Linked DNA regions of Homo sapiens: region 2 is linked to region 1. A link means that fine-mapping ties the variant in region 1 to the plasma level of a protein whose gene starts in the linked region. Region 1 holds a variant in brackets. A gene starts in the other region. All regions are shown on their forward strands.

Region 1 (9,671 bases):
ACAGGTGGTGTAAACTTACTGTATGGAAAAATACATAACAGTACCACAGATGTATTTTCTCCTTACGAACATTTCCTTTTCTCTAGCTTACTTTATTGTAAGAATACAGTATATCATACATATAACATACAAAATACATGTTATTAACTGTTGCTGGTCAACAGCAGGCTGTTAGTAGTTAAGTTTTTGAGAGTCAGAGTTATACCTGGATTTTCTACTGTGTATGGTCAGTGTGCCAACCCCTGAAATTGATCAAGGGTCAACTGTAATCCTAAAAGAATCTAATACAATATTGTAAACAGTAAGTGGTCAATAAATAAGGAATTGAACTAATAAGAATACATAAATCCCAGAATATGTGCAACCTGATCATAGTACACAGAGATCTCTCTATATATCTCTTTTCTTAGTTCATGCTGTTCTTTCAGGTAGAAAGCGCCTTATTTTGAATTAGTTGTCTTTAGAGCAAAAATCCCTCCAAGAGTGCTGTGTGGTTTCCTATGCACAACCTGGAATAGTCCATTGCTTCATGCCTACCCTGGACATGAAGGGCCATGCCGCAGCGGAAGTCTCTATGCACCCACCCCCGTCTATACCTGAGCAACACATTCCTCTTTGCTGCTCTCTTACAGGCTACAGAGTGCGGTGGCGCCAGCACAGAGCTCTGCTCAACGTCCCTCTGTGCTTTCACGATGCTGATGGATTATGAAGGTAGGGAAGAATGTACAGCCAGGAGGCCATTAGGAGGGCAACTAATTTATAAAATCACATTTGTAGAATTTAATGCATCCAACAACTACCAGGGGAAAGGTGGGCAAAAGCTATACCAACACCACCCAAGTCAAAACCAAAACAACAGGAAAAGAAAATTATGTGGATGTAGAATTTCTGATAACATCATTCCCAAGGTGCCTTATCCAAGAGGAACTGCTACAATAATATTTTAAGTGGAAATAAATACATGCTGGAAGCATTATATATTAGTAGAGTATTTTTTTTTCCCAGAGTACTTTCTCAAGCACATCAACATGAGCCCCCTAAGAGACATTTCACATTAAAAATAAAATGTCTGCCCACTGCTGGTTTCTCAATCTGCCTCCACCTTCTGTCCCCTTTAATGAACTGGGCCATGAGGTGAGTCAGAGAGGATAAAGGGAGTGGTAAGAATTTGAGGAGAGAAGAGAGTGAGGCTAAAATAGGAAATCAGGAAAAGCGATTCGGTCCCCCTGTCCCTCACATGGGGCCACCCTCTTGTTGCCCAGTGTGGCTTCTTCTTGAGGGTTCTGCATGGTTCCTCAATCCCAGGGAATTCCGCAGGACATTCCACCCAAGACCATTGGGCTCCCACCTCTACTCTTTTGCCAGTTAATGAATAGGCAGGAATTTCACTGCCTGGAAAGAGGAACAATGCTTTCTGGTCCTTATTTCACATCTAAAATAGAGAGGTCAATTGATTTATTCCTAAATATCTTTGAACACTAAAATAGAAGTTTTACAGCATATATACTACCTGGTTGCTCTAGACTTAAGCCAGGGAAAAGTACAGATTCAACATTTAAAATTGAGATAGACGCTTTCCACTTAATGCTACCAGTCTTGCTTTATTTCATGAGAATGAGAATATAATAATATGGCATACGTTCATTTGGGGGAAAGATTGATGTCTTATAACATAATTTATAATTACAGAAAACATGTGAGTTCACTGGGAATAAATAAATTTTGAAGATAATAAGATACTTTCACTTATGTCGTAATTTCTATGTCATTTGGTGTAGGATGTAGAGATATTAACGTTTACACCTAACTTAAGTTTGTCATCTAAGACCTGAAGGGGTTTTGTCTATCAGCTGCACCCCTGGGTAGAGACACAACCTTGGGGAAGGCCTCAGCCCCATCCCTCGTACAGCAGGAATGAGAACAGCCCTGCCTGTTGGGAAGCTTGAGGGAGGCTATGGACGTGCAGCGCTTGGCAGAGGGTCTCGTCATGGAAGGTTCCAGCAAATGTGAGATACTTTTATGATTTCATTTTCTCCAAAAGAAAGGGAATAAGAGAAGAGGGGAGGAAATAAGACTAATTGCGAGAGATAAAGTACAAGGGTGAGGGAAGGAATAAGGAGACATGACGGCAGCGTGGAGCAGCCGAGGGGGGAGATTGCTTTCACCACTTCCCAGCATCTATTGCAGATTCCACCCTCAAACATGTTGTAAGGACTCTTTATTCAAGGTAATGTTTGAACCCTGCTGAGCCAGTGGCATGGGTCTCTGAGAGAATCATTAACTTAATTTGACTATCTGGTTTGTGGATGCGTTTACTCTCATGTAAGTCAACAACATCCTGGGATTGGGACCCACTTTCTGGGCACTGCTGGCCAGTCCCAAAATGGAACATAAGGAAGTGGTTCTTCTACTTCTTTTATTTCTGAAATCAGGTAAGACATAGTTTTTTTAAATTATAAGAATTATTTTTTCTCCCACAATGTAGTAAAAATACATATGCCATGGCTTTATGTGCAATTCATTTAATTTTTGATTCATGAAACTTCCAGTTGAAAATCTTGTATAAGATTGAGGAATTCTTCAAGAAATAAGTTTAAGTTTCCTGTGAAGATTGTCAGGGTGCTGGAATGAATGGGCAGAGAAAATAATGGGTGATTTTTCAAATCTAAATGAGTGCACCCACATAATGGCCAGTCTAATTGAAAAAGAGCCAATGTAGCTAATTATGCAAAGGACGGCTAAGCTCTTTGCCTGGTTCTCAGTTTGACTAATTTATATCATCTCTGTTACGGTGTCATGCTCCCCTCACTTGCAAGTTAAAACAGTGAAATATCTCTTTGAATATATTCCGTTCTCTCACCAGTTCATGGTGGCGGCAGGGTCGGGGACTCAGCATTTCTCCCTTTGTTATGGCCTGAGGAAGGCTTTCCATCAGTATACGTTTGCCTCTTATCCCCGGAAAAATCACACGCATCCATTTGCCAGATGCTGTGTGCAGATAGTGATCAACAAATACTCAGTTGCTTGGGTTAGGTCCCTACATTTTTACACATACATACATACCTGTGTGTGAATGTGAGTGTGAGTGTGTATCCTTTACAAATACTAGCTTATTTAGCTCGTGGTATAGGTAGGGTAGCATATTCATCCTCATTTTATAAACAAAGAAATCAGACTTAGGAATATCATGTTATTTGCTCAGTGACCAAATTCTCAGATCTGGGAAATAAAGAAAACTGGATTTAAGCCAGGTTTCCCAGAAGGAATCTAGGGCTCTTCTCACTTTTCAGCTTTGTTTAAGCCTTTGAAAGAATATTCTAAACATGTCCTAGTACTTCTTTTTCTTTAAAAAAAAAAAAGCTTTATTGAGATATAATTAACATATAGAATTCACCCATTTAGGCATACAATCCAATGGATTTCAAGATATTGAGAGTTGTGCAGCCACCATCAGAATAAATTTTAAAACTATTCATACCCCCAAAAACGCACTCCACTCTCCTTAGCTGTTACCCCCAATCTGCAGCTTCTGGCAACCACTAATCTACTTTCTGTATTTATATCTTTGCCATTTTGAACATTTCATACAAACGGAATCATACGATTTGCTAGTAGTTCTTCATGTAAATAATGTACGCTTGAAATTCAATCTATAAATTACCAGATAAAATTTTACAAGTTGCACTTTAGAGTCAAATACATTTGAATTTAGTGGAAGCCATTCAAGGAGCTATCAAAGAAAATACAGAGCAGGAGAAAATTAAAGAAATTTTTGTAAGAAATTGGTGTATGTTGGGGGGTATGAATATTATATTTCAATGCATGGAAACTAGGACATAGATCACTATGAACTTATTCAGTGGGCTACACCCAAAGGCTAGATCAAACTTCTCTGCCACAGGATTAACATATGTTTTAACCCACCTGGTGGGCACATTCTCTCATAAGCTCTTTTGGAAAGCCAGGTTTTCTGTGGATGTATCATCTTTCCAGTGTGCTGCAATGCCCGGGGAGAGGGAAAAGTTTCTTTTACAGCCATGCTTAGTGGGAAGTGGAGAAACATCTTCCATTTCACAAATTAAGTCTTTTACACATGCAAATATGCATACACATTCACACACCACAGTGAGGAAGAAATTCTCACACCATTAATAAAATACATTTGCATCAGTAGCAATATACATCTGCATTTTGCCTATAATATAAATGTATTTTTCCACTAAAAGATTTGTTTGATGTTTCCTTGCCAGCAAATAAGCCCTATCAAATCCTATTGCCATATGAGTCCTAGAGGTGAATAAGAGAAGAAAAAATGGGGGAAAATTATTTCAAACTGAAAAGAGAAAAGTTTGATTCTGTTTTGGGATATTTCCTAGGGACATGAGCTGGGGAGGGGATCTCAGCAGCGATGCGCTATGAAGCATAGTAACATAACACAGAGAACTTAATTGAAGGGGGAAATAAATGGAAGTTTTCTTTTTTTGAATATCAGTTGTAGCC[T/C]GCTCTGCTATACTTCAAAAAAACTCTTCAGAAAGTTTAACTGAACTCACTGTAGGACACACTTTGTGGATTTATTGTGTGTTTTGAAGTCACACTGTGAGCTATATAGAATTAACCAAAACACAACTCTTCTTGAAAATGAGAGTTCAAGTTGGCAGAAAGTGCGGGGTAAAGACATGGATATGGGCCTAAAGCATCTATTTCTTTGTGATCTTTTGATATATCTCTCAAGTGCTTTTTAGTGGATTAGCTTTAGAATGCATCAGCCAACTCCTGCTCAATAATCCATTTTTCCAGCCCGGAATGTCTTAAATTGAGGAAGGACAAAGTCCCAGAGGTGGGGAGCAGGGGGACTTTGGCCGAGGACTTTGCATGAATCGATGAGCATGCATCCACCTCCCTGTCCTGCCCCTTGTGCTCTGTGTACCCTCAGGAGGTCAGGACAGGCCTTTCTGAGAATGAAAATCTGTTCATTTGCTTTCCTACTGGATACTTGTCATCAGCATACAAACCAATGCGCTCTGCAGTGTGTCATCTTTCAGAACCTCCCCTGACCGCATGTTCCCTGGAGGGCTCGCTGTCTTCAGAGCCAGGCTTGTCTCCTGCTGCAGCCTCCACTGCTCTCCTAGTCACTCTGTAACCCACCCCCTCTGCCTGCGGCCCCCACCACGCCCCTCAAAGTGGTCAAGGTTGTCCTGTTGTCTAATTCCATGGAGCTTGCCTGTCTTCATTTTATTAGCCTCTTTTGGCCTCTCACCCTTGTGCAAATCACTAGCATTCTGTGCCAAGGACGGAGCTGGCATCTCCAGGCTTGGAATAGAGCTACCAAAGCTCAGCCAGATGTCTGGAAGAGCCTCAGGACAAGGGGACACCCTGTAGCCTTGTGGTGGGAGCACAGCTGAGGCCCCCTTGGCCACCCTCTGCCACGACCAGGCAGAAAGCAGCTTTCGGACAGATTCGTTGTCTCAGATTTGATCTCAAAGAAAAACCAAGACCAGTATTTGTCCCAGGTCCTGCTTTTTTACAATTTCCTCCGAAATCCAGATACCTGTCAACACCTTGGAAAAACTGACTTCTCCCCAATTAGTAGTGTTGTGTGACTGTCATAAGCCCAGTACAAAAATGGCCTTCTTTGTTGGGGAGCTTCTTACCCTCCAGTGTTTTGCCCAATTTTTGTCCAAGGTGGCAACATAATTTAGTTCAGTTCTTGTTTATTTCCACCATCATCTATGCACCAAAATTTATGTTTCTCAAGGAGGGACCATTCAGAGGATGCTTCCCACCGGTTCAAGTGACAGTGCCAGAACCAAAGCGCATATTGTAGGAAATCAAACAATGGCCTCCAAGTTCCATTTCTACCCAGGGATGAACAAATCAACATCAATCTTGGTAACACAACTGCCACTGATGGTGCCTTACTCTTCTCTCATGACATGGCACAATCAATAGCAAACATAAAATTTGTTCTTGTTTAAGGATTTATATCCACTAATATGGTAACATAGTAGTGGTTCCATAGTTCTAACCTGTTTGTCAATCCAGTTAATCTTTTACTATCTTGCAATCTGCTAATGAAACTGTTTTTCTTTGTTTTATAATTTCAACTTTTAGAGTCAGGGGTACATGTGCAGGTGTGTTACATAACTAAATTGCGTGACACTGAGCTTTGGGGTACAAATGATCCCATCACCCAGGTAGTGAGCTAAATACCTACTAAATAGGTAGTTTTTCAGCCCTTGCCTTGCTCCCTCTCTCCCTTCTCTGGTAGTCCCCAGTGTCTTTAGTTGCCATCTTTATTTATGTCCAAATGCCCGACTGTGTGTTCTTAACTAAACATTTTGATTCATAGCTACCCATTCTACTTCCAGTAAACAGAAAGTTTTATTTGGTTAATGCTAACCAAATAGATTAAAAGGAAGTCATGACAATTAGACATTGACATTGATTTACTGACCATTTATTCCACTTGGATCTCCCACCTCTAGGTCAAGGAGAGCCTCTGGATGACTATGTGAATACCCAGGGGGCTTCACTGTTCAGTGTCACTAAGAAGCAGCTGGGAGCAGGAAGTATAGAAGAATGTGCAGCAAAATGTGAGGAGGACGAAGAATTCACCTGCAGGTATTTCCATTGTCGTTGCACCTACGCAGGAATCTGTAATTCAGATGGCAAGTAATTTACTCACAAATTTATTAATGATTTAAGAGGAAAGAGAAATTTATGGAGCCAGAGTTTGGAACTATATTTGCTCACAGTATGTGAAGCCATACTAACAGCTTCTTGTTAAGGTTTATTGGAGTCTTTGTTAGAAAAATACCCTCAAAGGAAGTTATTTGTTTTTACACCGGACACAAACATTAGCAGTTATTGTTCTGAGCTCCAGTTTTCAACATCATCATCAGTAAATGTTTGTTGAGGATCAGGTGAATGAAAGTGTCCTAGATAGATCTGAGCAATGACTTATAGCTACAAGATCCAGTGCCTGCCCTTTAGTATTTAAGGTGTAGTCAAAGAAACTGGATATAATGTTAAAAAAAAAAAAAAGACAGCCCAAGTGAGGTACAGGCATAATCAATGCATGCTCTACCCAGATCCAGAAGAAAGAACAGTGCCTAAGGTTGAGGCAGCTAGAGAAGGCTCAGGGAGGAGGTGGGAACTGAGCTGGGTTTGGAGTTGAGAGAGCTCTTGACAAGCACCAGGAAGGCAGGGGAAGATGCGGCCCTGCACCTTCTGAGGGGGACCATTAAGAGATGAAGTTGACTAAAGCAGAGACTTTGTGTAGGTGACGGGCTTGGGAAGGTAGCTATGGAATCCAGACTGAGCACCCATAGCAGGACCACGGGATGGAGATGGGAGGGGTCAGGGGCCAGGGTGGGGTGGAATGTGGAGCAGAGGTTCAGGGGAACTGATCAGAGTTGGGAGGTCATGGAGACGGACTATCTTGGCGAATGGGTTCAAAGCAACCAGAGTTGCTTCTTTCCAACCCAAAAACAAAAATTAAGAAGATGAGTGAAGAAGAAGTAAAGCAGTTGAAACAGGAAGAAAGGGAAAATTATGAGGGAGGGAAGGTAAGGGCAGATAAGATTTGCTGCCACGTTGGTGTATTTTGTTCAGTACTTCATCGATGCCATGCCCAAATAACTGAAAGAGGCAGCAATTCTGAGCTCTCTGGTCCCTCAAGATATTCAATGATCTTTAGCATGTCTCACTTATTAATAAACATTTGTTTTCTTTAAATAAAGAAAAATACTTATTGGATTTCCTGCTTCGTTCTGCAGGGCATTCCAATATCACAGTAAAGAGCAACAATGTGTGATAATGGCTGAAAACAGGAAGTCCTCCATAATCATTAGGATGAGAGATGTAGTTTTATTTGAAAAGAAAGGTGAGTACATTTTCTTCCTCCTCCTCCTACTGTCCTCCCCATCCTCCCACTCTTCCTCTTTCTCTATTCTATCTTTAATTTATAAGACCAGAGGAGGAAGGCACTATCGTGTTATAAAACTGAATTCTGAGTTAGGACAGGATTTGATTACTAACTAACCATGTCAGCTTGAGTGTATTACTTCACCTCTTAGATTTAATTTTTTTTGTTCAAAAGATGAAAGGATTAGATTTACAAAATCACTTCTACCTCTATGACCCTGAAAATAAGATTTTTAAAATATTATTTTATATTTAACAAGGAGATGGGAAGTCTAAGCATTCCTTTTGGTCTTGGCTTCTTATTCTGCAGGGTGACCATGGTCCTTGGGCCCTAACATCTGGATGAAGCCTTGTAAAACAGAAATACTGAGGTGTTTTAATCCTCAGAAACATTTAGATTGGGACACAAATCTTATTTTTACTCTTAAATTTTTCACATTTTGGGGGACATGGTCTATATTTTTCTCAGATTTCTGAAATGTTGTCTTTTAAAAATGTGTAAAAGTTACAGTTCCTTTTCTATAGTTTATTTTAAAATGTGGGTCAATAGTCCCACTGCTTAGAATAAGAGGCAGACAGGATTTCAATAGAAATTGCATGCCTTTTTAGATGTGCAAATGTTTCATTAAGCATTTCCCATCAAGTATATCCCATCAAGTATGCTCCCATTAAGCATATCCCATCAAGTATAAATATTTGAAGGGATGCATGACACTTTAAAAACTGTTTCCTCTACTGTGTTGGTAGCCAGGTATTAAGACTGTTAATAGTAACAATTTAGCTCTCCAAACATTCTGCATCCCAGGTGTTAAAGAGGACTGGAAACACCTTAGTTCTTGTATTCTTGAGGATGATTTGCCATATTGTGTCTAGTATTACGGCAAAACTCTAAGTAGCATTTTAAATAGTATTTATTTGGGTTGGAATTATTTCTATGCATTGACTCATCTTCCTGGGTTTCATTAGCTGTACGCATTGTACTTCCTTCCTTACCACTATTTATCTCGAATTCTTGAGATTAAAGTGCAGATTAAATCTAAACTTTATCTGGTGAAGTTATTAGTTCTTACAAGTAGCAAGCAAACGGTAAACTAAATAGGATCACCTAATTGTACCAGATTTTAAAAAAAAAAAACCCTGATTCTCCTGATTCTCTCTACAAAATGCTAACATTTAAATATGTCATTTGTAAATTGTTAACCAGAAGGAACATGGGAATGACTGTAGGTTGAGTTTGAAGTCTGAAGTTTGAAGGCTTAGTTTGCTTGTTTTCAAAGTGACAGAAGGGAGCAAAAGGTTATATAAACTCTGATGGGTACATACAAAAAAAAAAGAAGTGAAAAGTCAAAAGTCAGTCATTTTTTGGTCCTTGTTTCTTTGCTGTGGGATATTGACCTGCTACTAACTTACCTGCCAGGGTTTTGCCAGGAACAGTCAGTGTTAGATCACATTTACTTCTGCCACTTGCCACCAGCCACACTGCCTTCACCAAGTCCAAGACCCTATCACCACTGGTTGGGGCTACTTGTAGCTGTACACATGATCTCTAAGAAATGTAACTTCCCTGTTTAAAGCCCTTCCTAGTGCCCTTAAAATAAGACCCAAAGACTTCCCAAATGTGCTAGGGCCCAGCATTATTTAAGTAACCCCCAGCTGCTGTTTGCTTGGCTTGCTAAACTTTTCTACACTGGCCTTACTTCTGTTCCTTCACCACCCCAAGCACACACCCTCCTGCCTGGGACCCT
Region 2 (9,671 bases), not on the chromosome of region 1:
CTCAAAAGATGCCTCTCACAGGCTTGGTGAGGAGGGTCTCCTCTGGACTCACTCCCAATAGGAATGCATATATATGTTCATTAAAAGGTATAAGGAAGTTCGTAGCAGCAATTTTATAATCATCTTAAACTGGAAACTGCCCAAAAGTCCATCTGAGGAAGAATAGATAAATAGATGAAAGTATACGCATATAATGGAATATCATGCATCAGAAAGAACGTGGATACAAAAACATAAACTGCATAATCACGATGTGGAATGAAAGAAGACCCAAAGAGTGCATGCTGTTTAATTCTATTTATACCATTTTTAGAAACAGGAAGAACTAATACATGGTGTTAGAACTTGAGATAGTGATTATCTTGCTGGGAATAATGACTAAGTGGTAGCACAAGGGATCTCTGGGATGTGGGTGATGTTCTTTTTCTTGATTTGGGTGCTGATTACACAGGTGTGTTCACTTTTTGAAATTCACGGAGCTATACATGGATGTGTTGTGCACTTTTATGTGTGTATTTATACCTTGATGGAGTAACCAAACAACAAAACCAATACCTGGAGTACCAGGAGATCTAGCTTTACCTAAAACTTAGAAGCTTTCAAAAATATTTCACATTCAACTCTTGCAGAAGTGCCAGCATTTATGATTTGTGGGATTTGAGTAAATGCAAGTATCTATCCATTATGGTTAGCATTGCTGAAAGTGGCTTTGTTTATAGATTGTTAAGCAAAACCACATGGGCCACAGGAAGGAATGCCTCCAATCAGCTGTGGGGTTTCGTGAAGTGTGTGCATGAAGCAGAAGTTTTCAGAGAAAATGGTGAAACGTCCTTGAAAGTGCCTCAGCTGGGAGAGGATCAGAAAAAAATATCTATCGGGTACTATGCTTATTACCTGGGTGACAAAATAATCTGTACACCAAATGTCTGTGACATGTGGTTTACCTATATAACAAATGTGCACATGTACCCCTGAACCTAAAATAAAAGTTTTTTAAAAAATGCATCAGCTAGTTTGGGTACACTCTATATTCTTTCTGTTCCAGGTTTTATCATTTTGAAAGAAGTACAAAATCTCTACGTATGGAACCTGCATTAAATAAATGAGCATCAACATCTCCAGGAGGCACCCCAGGTGTAGACTCCACCTCTCTTACCTCTTCCAGATATTCGAACACCATTATTGATAGCATTCTTGTTTTGATAAGGTTTCTCCTGGCCCACAATCATTCCAGTGAATGGTGCGTACACAGTAGATCCAGCAGAGCACAAGATGTCCACACCCTGGTGAGGCCTCTGACTTCTAGGATGTAAATAAGAACGAACAGACTGAGGAACTGCCTTAGGGGAGCTTTACTGCCTGGGAACATGGTGTTAGCCCACTGTTTGCAGACGAGGTACCAAAGCTTGAAGCTGCCAGAACATGTTGGGATGTCCCAGGATGCCTCACTCTGTTTAGCCCAATTTTAACCTCCCTCCCCGCAGGTGCTAATAACCATATCATAAAGATGAAAGCATTTAAAATGGTACTTGGTACATAATAAGCCTTAAGCAAATATTAGCTACTATTATTTTATGGCATGTTGGGGGAATGAGGCAGTCCATGTAAGTGCATTTTCTAGATACCTAGATCTTGACATCTTCAAGCCCACTTTGAAAACAGCTGTCTTTTTATGGGAACCTATCATAAAAGTATCACATGTTACCCTAGTCTTATTTTTCTTGCAGTGATCTAGAAAAGTGATTGTAAACGTCACTTACTGTATATGGTATTTTAATACAATGAGTGATACCTCCTGGGTTTATTAAAGTGCATGGAGCCCAAATCAAACTATTCTAGATTGTGACGTGCCTTGAGTTCGTCTTAGCAACCCCTCAGCTCTTGCTTCCCGCTGCTGTCACTATGCCTGCTCTCACCAGCCTCCCCTACCTTCTAATAGGCTGTCACCTGAACGATCAGGTTCACCAGGATTGCTGCAATTATGTACAAAGCAACACTGAGCAAGCTCAAGAGCCAAGAATTTACTGTATCAATCAAGTGCATAAACTTTGCAGTATAAGCTGAGTCTGAATTTTGGCAATTCAAGGGACGTTTCCCATATTTCCCTTCTCTTAGTCCTGTTTCAGTATTTGAGGTTGCTTTGTAAGTAGTATCTGTATATGTGAGAGTTCCCCTCTAGTTAGGATGGAGATCAGTGATATGACTGGACACATGGCTATTTCATTAGAAAGTGGCACCCCAAGGTGATGTTGGGTATAACTGAAAATTCACAAGTGTGACCCTCATTTTCTGGAAGAGATAGTGGTGCTTTCTCTCCTGCTTAGGGCCAGCCTCTAATATTCAACATCCAGAGCCTGAGCCAGTAACCGCGTGGTTTGGTGGGAAGAGGAACCAAAAGCCTGAATTCAGGTCCAGGCTTCACCATCTCCAACTGTGCTTGGCAGGTCCCTTAACCCTTTGGTACCTCAGTTAAAGTTTCTCTTCTATAAAATGGGATAGTTGTGTTTAATAACCCTTTGGAAAAAAACAGTTGAGATAAGTGAATGTGTGAAGACATTCAGAAGGAAAACATTGTGTTTGCTCCCTGATCTTTTCCTTCTTCCACATTCTGATCCCAATTTATAGCTCATACTTGAAGCAGAGTTCTTGGAAGCTGCTCCAAAGACAGTGATGTAACTGGTTACATCTCTGGTTTTTCATGCTGTCAGAACTGTGAGCCCTTGAGGCAACCAACGTTGGGCAAGGACACTAAGAAAAGAGGTTAGGGACCAAAGGGTTGGGTGGGTGGTTGTGCAACTTCATACCTTTGAGCAGAGTACTGTCCACAGCCATGGCGGTCACACGTCCGGATCTCATTGGAAGACTTGCCAGCACATATATTAGCCCATGGCCCTGCCAGTGCTAAAAAGGAGAAAAGTGAGAGCAGAGCTCCTGGCCTCAGACATTTCCTATCCCCATTTGCCTTATCAGTCACACAGTTGATCCTGACAATTCTGTTTTCACTGTAGTTTTCCCTGGACTTTATGTATTTATGGGAAGATCGTCCTTCCAGAATTTTATTTCCTGATTCAGATGTAAAATTGGCTTTTTCCCTGGCCACAGAATTCTGCTTTGTGACGTTAGAGTATCAGTGAATACAATTTTTTTTTTTTTTGGATCGGAGTCTCACTCTGTTGCCAAGCTGGAGCACAGTGGCGTGATCTCAGCTGACTTCAACCTCCATCTCCTGGGTTCAAGTGATTCTCCTTCCCCAGCCGCCTGAGTAGCTGGGACTACAGGTGCGCACCACCACACCCAGCTAATTTTTGTATTTTTAGTAGAGACGGAGTTTCACCATGTTGGTCAGGACGGTCTTGATCTCTTGACCTCGTGATCTGCCTGCCTCAGCCTCCCAAAGTGCAGGGATTACAGGCGTGAGCCACTGCGCCCAGCTGAATGTGTTTCTTTATAAGCATTGGCCTCCATCATTATACTTTGCTTCAGATCCATTAGTAAATGGTATAAGTTGTGCTTTTCTATTTTTCTTTGCTCATTATCTGCCATGGGGATCATTATTTTTAGATTAAGCAAAAATAATAAAATAGCATGGCTCAGAAAATAATTTTAGAAATTGTAATTTTGAAATGGTTAGTTCCACTAATCAAATCCAAGCAAATGTTTGAATTAAAGGAGAAACGAACTCTGTACTAGCCAAGTTTGTTTAACACTAGATAAATCTCTCATAGTTGCCAACATGGAAGAGGGAGATTCTTAAAAATAATCTGAAATGTCAAACCAATTTAGCCTAGACTGAGATTAGGGGTGAAGGTAGGAGAAGGAGTAGAACCAATTATATGAAAAATTATGAAACGTGGAGGAGGGGCTGCTTTCTCAGCAGACTTGGTGCAAACTTTGTTTCAGGCACAATTTGTTTCTTTACTATAGTAAGCACTTAATAAATGTTCAATGGAATTAAATGTCCTGGATTTCCAGTGTTAACATTCACAGAGAGATACAGTGAGCACACTCAACCTTGCACTTTGAAACAAACAAGCAAAAGCGAGAGCCTGGTAATTTGACTATTGATTTTATTTAAAGACATTTTACTCTTCATTAATACCTATCCTGTGAAGAGAACCTACAGAATATGGCCATTAAGCCTCTTCTTTAAAATACTTTTAAAAGGTGGGTTTCAAAAGTTTTATGCCTTGGAGCCAAGCTCCAAATCAACACCTTGATCAAGATATAATCCCATCACTTTGGCAACTAATATTTATCCTTGGGAATTGAGGCAAATATCAGACAGTGTAGTAATTTATTCACTTTTTCCTCCTTCGGTGAGTATTAAGGGAGCCATCCCTTTGTCTTAATCCATACCAGTCTCTGTATTAGTATCTGTATCAGAATTTGATTTTGATCAAAATCAGAATCAAATATTTATATCAACTTTTTATTATCTAGTTTTGTTCTAGTTAAGTCCCAGACCCAGACTCAGACTGAAAGGCTTTGTAATGTCTTCTCAACCCACTATTATGTTTCCCTCATTAAAGAACCGGAACATTCCATTTAAATTACTTAAAACATCCTCAGGACCATGTGTCATTCCTATTTCATTTTTAATAGCCAAATACACAAGTCTTTGTTGTGATCATGCTATTAATGACTTTTTAATCTTTTTAGTCTTCCCCTGAAATCAGTTTTTAAAAGTTAATCAATATTCTAAAATTGCACTTTCGACTTACCGGTAGAAATCAGACCAGCCAAAAGGAGGGCTTTGGTGGAAAACATCTGGTTTTACTTCCTTTAGTTTCTTCCTCTGATTAGAGTTGCCCCCACACTCTCTTTGAAGAATATTCAAGTTTGAATGAATACTTCCTAGCTATTTAGCCTTAGAATTCTGCATCTCTCATTTCTTTAGTGTGAGACACAAAAAGTTTAAGAGGATGGAGCAAGTCAAGTTCTAATATTCCATGGATAGCTATTTGATTTGCAGGTAGGGCCTATGTAAAAGCCTTTGATCTGAAGAAGAAGCCAATTATATTGGAAATACTGACTAAATATTAACAGAAAATGATAAGGCTAGGTGCATATCGACAGTCTTCTGGGCTGTGGCTTGTAGGAGAATGTTCGTGCGAATGATGGAATATTTAGTGCTGCCTGCTGGTAGATCTTTCTTTTATTTCCTTGATAGCACATATTTCAGAAGAAAATTGGTCATTAATAATGTGTAGCCCTTCATAACATATTCCTTAATATATCCCTTAGGTGTTTTTGAATTCTCAGTTTAATTATATTTCACCTGTGTAATATTTGCAAATAACTTTAATATTTTAATAAAATTGCATGTATTCACCTTAAATATGTGATTTTTAAATGTTTTCTTGTTTATGATAATGGTAAGTTAACACCATTAAAAGCATCCATCAATAAAGGAAAAAAGATTAATTATAATATAGTCATTGATATGGTTTGGATCTGTGTCCCCACCCAAATCTCATGTTCAATTGTAATCCCCAGTGTTGGAGGTGGGGCCTGGTGAGAGGTGATTGAATTATGGGGCTAGAGTGCTCATGAATGGGTTGGCATCATCCCCTTAGTGCTGTTGTCCTGATAGTGAGTGAGTGAGTTATGGTGAGATCCGGTTGTTTAAAAGTGTGTAGCACCTCCCCTGTTCTCACTTCCTCCTGCTTCAGCCGTGTAAGACATGCCTGCTTGCCCTTTGCCTTCCGCCATGATTTTCAGTTTCCTGAGACGTCCCAAGAAGCTACCATGCTTTCTGTACCTCTTTTCTTTATAAATTACCCAATCTCAGGTATTTCTTTATAGCAATGCAAGAACAGAATAATACAGTCATACAACAGAGTAAAATATAACAATTTAAATGAAGACAATCTACATGTATTAACACAGCTAGATCTCTAGATATACTGTTGAATTAAAAAGCTATTTTTAGAATTATATATATAGTATCATACTATTTATAATATGTAAAATCTGAAAACAAGTATATTAATCTTAATGAATGCTGTATGTATAATAAAAATATGCACAGACTACCTTTAAGGTACTAATTACTTCTGGATAGTGAGAGAAATAAAACCGTGGAAGGATATACAGAGTACATAAACTCTAAAATATTTTATTTCTAAAAAAAGAAAAAAATCAGAAGCAAATATGTTAAAATATTAATTTGTTAATTATTGGAGATAGACACATGGATGTTATGTTACCCTGTACTTTTCTGGGGAATTAAATTTTCAGTGTGTTTCAAATATATGTTAGCAGCTCCTTTTTAGCTTAATATTAGATGAGCACCTGGAATTTTCTATGGAAGCTTCCCCATTTAAATTATGTGCCAGTAGCTGTGGGAGATTGGGATTGTAGCCCCAGTTCTTCACCCTCTCTGCATCCACACCTTTGCCATGTTTCATGGGGGCAAAGGGAACTTTCCTCACCCTTGATTTTGGGTTTAGCTGTGTAGCTTTGACCACTAAGATGAGGCAGAAGTGGCAGTGGGTCGGGAAAGCCTGGGTCTTCTGGGGCCTTAGTCTTTGCACACTCCTTCCTGTGTTTCTACATCGCCGTGAGGCAGATGATCCTGCTGCCCTGGGAAGGGAATGGATGCCATGCAGAGCACAGTTGCCCCTACAAAATCCAGCTTAGTATACCCTATGAATGTATGGGCTTAACTGGCTGTCATTGGAAGCCACTGAGTTTTGGTGTGGTATGTCACACAACAATAACTAAACGATGCCAATGAGATTATGCACCTAATTGTTTTTGCTTCACACACAACCTTTCAAGGAGGCATCTAATGTATACAATATAGAATGCCAACGCATTGAATACATCAAGGATCTGAGTCAATGTACTGAAAGAATAGGTTAGTGAAACAAAACAGATGATTCAGAAATAGGCACAAATATATACAGCATGTAGTATACAATAGAAGTCATACTTTAAATGATTAGAGGAAATATAAGTCATTCTATTAACTGTATTGAGACAACAACTGGCAAGAAATAAAAGTGCAGTCTAGGCGTGGTGGCTCATGCATGTAATCCTAGCACTTTGTGAGGCCTGTGCGGGAGGATCACTTGAGGCCAGGAGATCGAGACGAGCCTAGGCAACATAGCAAAACCCCATTCCTACAAAACATTTTTAAAACTTAGTCAGGCATGGTGTGTGTGTACGCAGTCCTAGCTACTTGGGAGGCTGAGGCAGAAGGAATATTTGAATCCAGGAGTTTGAAGTTACAGTGAGCTACGATCATGCCACTGCACTCCACCCTGGGTAAGATAGTGAGACCCTGTCTCAAAATAAATAAATAAATAAAAGTTCAATCCATATCAAAGTGAACCAAACATTTGTATGCAAAAGGAGAGAAAGAGGGAGGAGGAGGAAAGAAAGAAAAGAAATGAACTGAAACCATAGAAATACTAGGAGAAATTATGAATGATTTTTAATGGTCTTGGTATGGGTTGGACTTTTCAAAGAATGTTAAAAAACCCAGAAGTGCTGAAGGAAATATTTGATAAATGCGTTATAACAATAATAAAAAAAACTTTCTACAAAGCCAACAGTATCCTGATCAGAGTCAAAAGATAATAATCTGAAAAAAATATCTATAACCCATATAATATGACAGATAAGGAACTCATCTCCCTAATATATAAAGAATTCTTTAAAAAAATAAAAGGTGTAAACAAATTGATAGAAAAATGGGCAAAGGCCAGGCGCGGTGGCTCACACCTGTAATCCCAGCACTTTGGGAGGCCGAGGCAGGCGGATCACGAGGTCAGGAGTTCGAGACCAGCCTGGCCAACATGGCGAAACCCCATCTCTACTAGAAATACAAAAATTAGCCAGATGTGGTGACAGACACCTGTAATCTCAGCTTCTTGGGAGGCTGAGGCAGGAGAATCGCTTGAACCTGGGAGGCGGAGTTTGCAGTGAGCCGAGATTGTGCCATTGCATTCCAGCCTGGGCAACAAGAGCAAGACTCCGTCTCAAAAGAAAAAAAAAAGAAAAATGGGCAAAAGATAGCAGCAGACTTTCCTAAAAGAAAAAATACAGATTACCAATATGTATTTGAAAATATGATCCACTTCACTTAAAATTAACAATTGTAAACCAGAATGAGGTGTAGTTTTTCACCCATCAAATTGACAAAGGTATGTAGAAACATTTATTGAAAAGTGTAAGTTGGTTTAACCTCTTTAGAGTACAATTTTGCAATACCCCTCACATTTTTAAATGCACAAAACCTTTGCTCCAGCAATGCTATTGTTTTCCTACCTGTGGCCTGCTTTCCTCCTATTTTCCCTGCCTTCTGCATTAACTGTTTCCAATGTATCTTCCCCTCTGAAGCCAGTGCCGTCCTCTAAACTGCAGAAGAGATGGTAGGAGACTCTTTTGAAACCCGTAATGGGATAGGATCTGAGCAATGTCATCAATGCTGAAAAGCTGATGAGAAACTTTGTAATGGATGGATCAGGCTGATGATACCTAATCAATCGTATTGTTAAGAAGAGAGAGAAGGAGAGAGTATATCAGACATTTTATACCTCCTGTTGGAAATGCACAACACAACCTATAAAGTATTCTTGTCAAAAAATCAGGCTAAAGTCTTATAAGGCCATTAGCTCTAACTTTCAGTTTACAGGAACTATGCAGCACAGGGATGCATGTTAAATGTACCACAAGAATGCAGTCAGACAAATGCAGGCTGTAGGAAGTTCTACCAGATAAAGAACCTGGTTTCTTCAACAAATAAATTCTGAGGAAAGGAAAATAGAGAGAGGGGCAATCTGTGGATTAGAAGAGATTTACAAGATTTATCAACAAAATGCCGTGTATGGACTTTACTTGGAGTCTGAATCAAATGAGGAAATGATAGACAGAGAGAAACAGAGAATAGGGACAATTTTAACACTACTTGATGATATTAGAAATTATTCTGTGTAATTTTAAGCATAATACATTAGGTGTTTGTAAAAAGTTCCTATCTTTTAGAAATACATACTGAAACATTTATGGGTATGAAATCATAGGATGTTTCAGATTTGCTTCAAAATAATCCAGGAGTTAGGAGAGTAGGTAGCATATAGATTAAACACAATTGGCTATGAACTGCTAATTACTGAAGCTGGGTAATGAGTACGCAGAAGTTTACTATACTATCCTCTCCAGTTTGTTTATATTTGAAAGTTTTCCCATAGCAACAAGTTAAATAAAGACATTTGTTGGACAATTAATTTGTTGGCAATATCTTTTGAACATAAAAAAGTTCCCATACAGCAAGGAAAAACTGATTTTTCTGTAACCTTGGTAATATTTAGCCACCTATATTTTAAACCCTTTAATCAGTCAATGACAACCCACGTCTGGTAAACATGCTCTTCAAAACAACCAATCAATAACAGCCCCTTGCTTCTGACTTTCAGCCAATTAGGGACAGACTCACTCTAGTAAGTGATTCCCAGCCAATCAACAACAGTCTTACCTGAGCACCATGTCTTTTAATCCGTCAAACCTCTAACATTCCGAAAGTTCACAAACCCCCGAACTCCCAGCTTCCCAAATCCATACATAAATAAGATGAACAGGCTGCTCTGCTTGGAAAGATTGTGCCTGACCGACACAGCTCTTCCTAACTATTGTCACTCATTCAGCTTTGTCTTTTTATTTCA

Alleles and levels. Alleles are on the strand shown, and positions count from the first base shown. The strength of an association depends on the size of the effect and on how common the allele is.
With allele C in place of T in region 1, the plasma level of the protein whose gene starts at base 4,917 in region 2 is lower (weak association).

What was found. PIP is the chance, under the fine-mapping model, that this variant and not a neighbour inherited with it causes the effect. Protein levels are from antibody-based Olink assays in UK Biobank. Linkage for the fine-mapping came from a reference panel and not from the study's own genotypes, which makes the PIPs less certain.
Region 2: it holds the start of LECT2, and the variant in region 1 is fine-mapped to the plasma level of the LECT2 protein (UK Biobank, PIP 0.99).

The regions. Positions count from the first base shown.
Region 1 is chr6:160,699,922-160,709,592 of GRCh38, forward strand. It overlaps PLG (plasminogen), which reads left to right and starts at 2,323. Exons shown (of 19, transcript NM_000301.5): 1 at 2,323-2,432; 2 at 6,486-6,621; 3 at 7,779-7,885. The coding sequence starts at 2,384. The variant T/C (reference allele first, on the strand shown) is at 4,501.
Region 2 is chr5:135,950,067-135,959,737 of GRCh38, forward strand. It overlaps LECT2 (leukocyte cell derived chemotaxin 2), which reads right to left and starts at 4,917. Exons shown (of 4, transcript NM_002302.3): 1 at 4,722-4,917; 2 at 2,805-2,901; 3 at 1,157-1,302. The coding sequence starts at 4,767.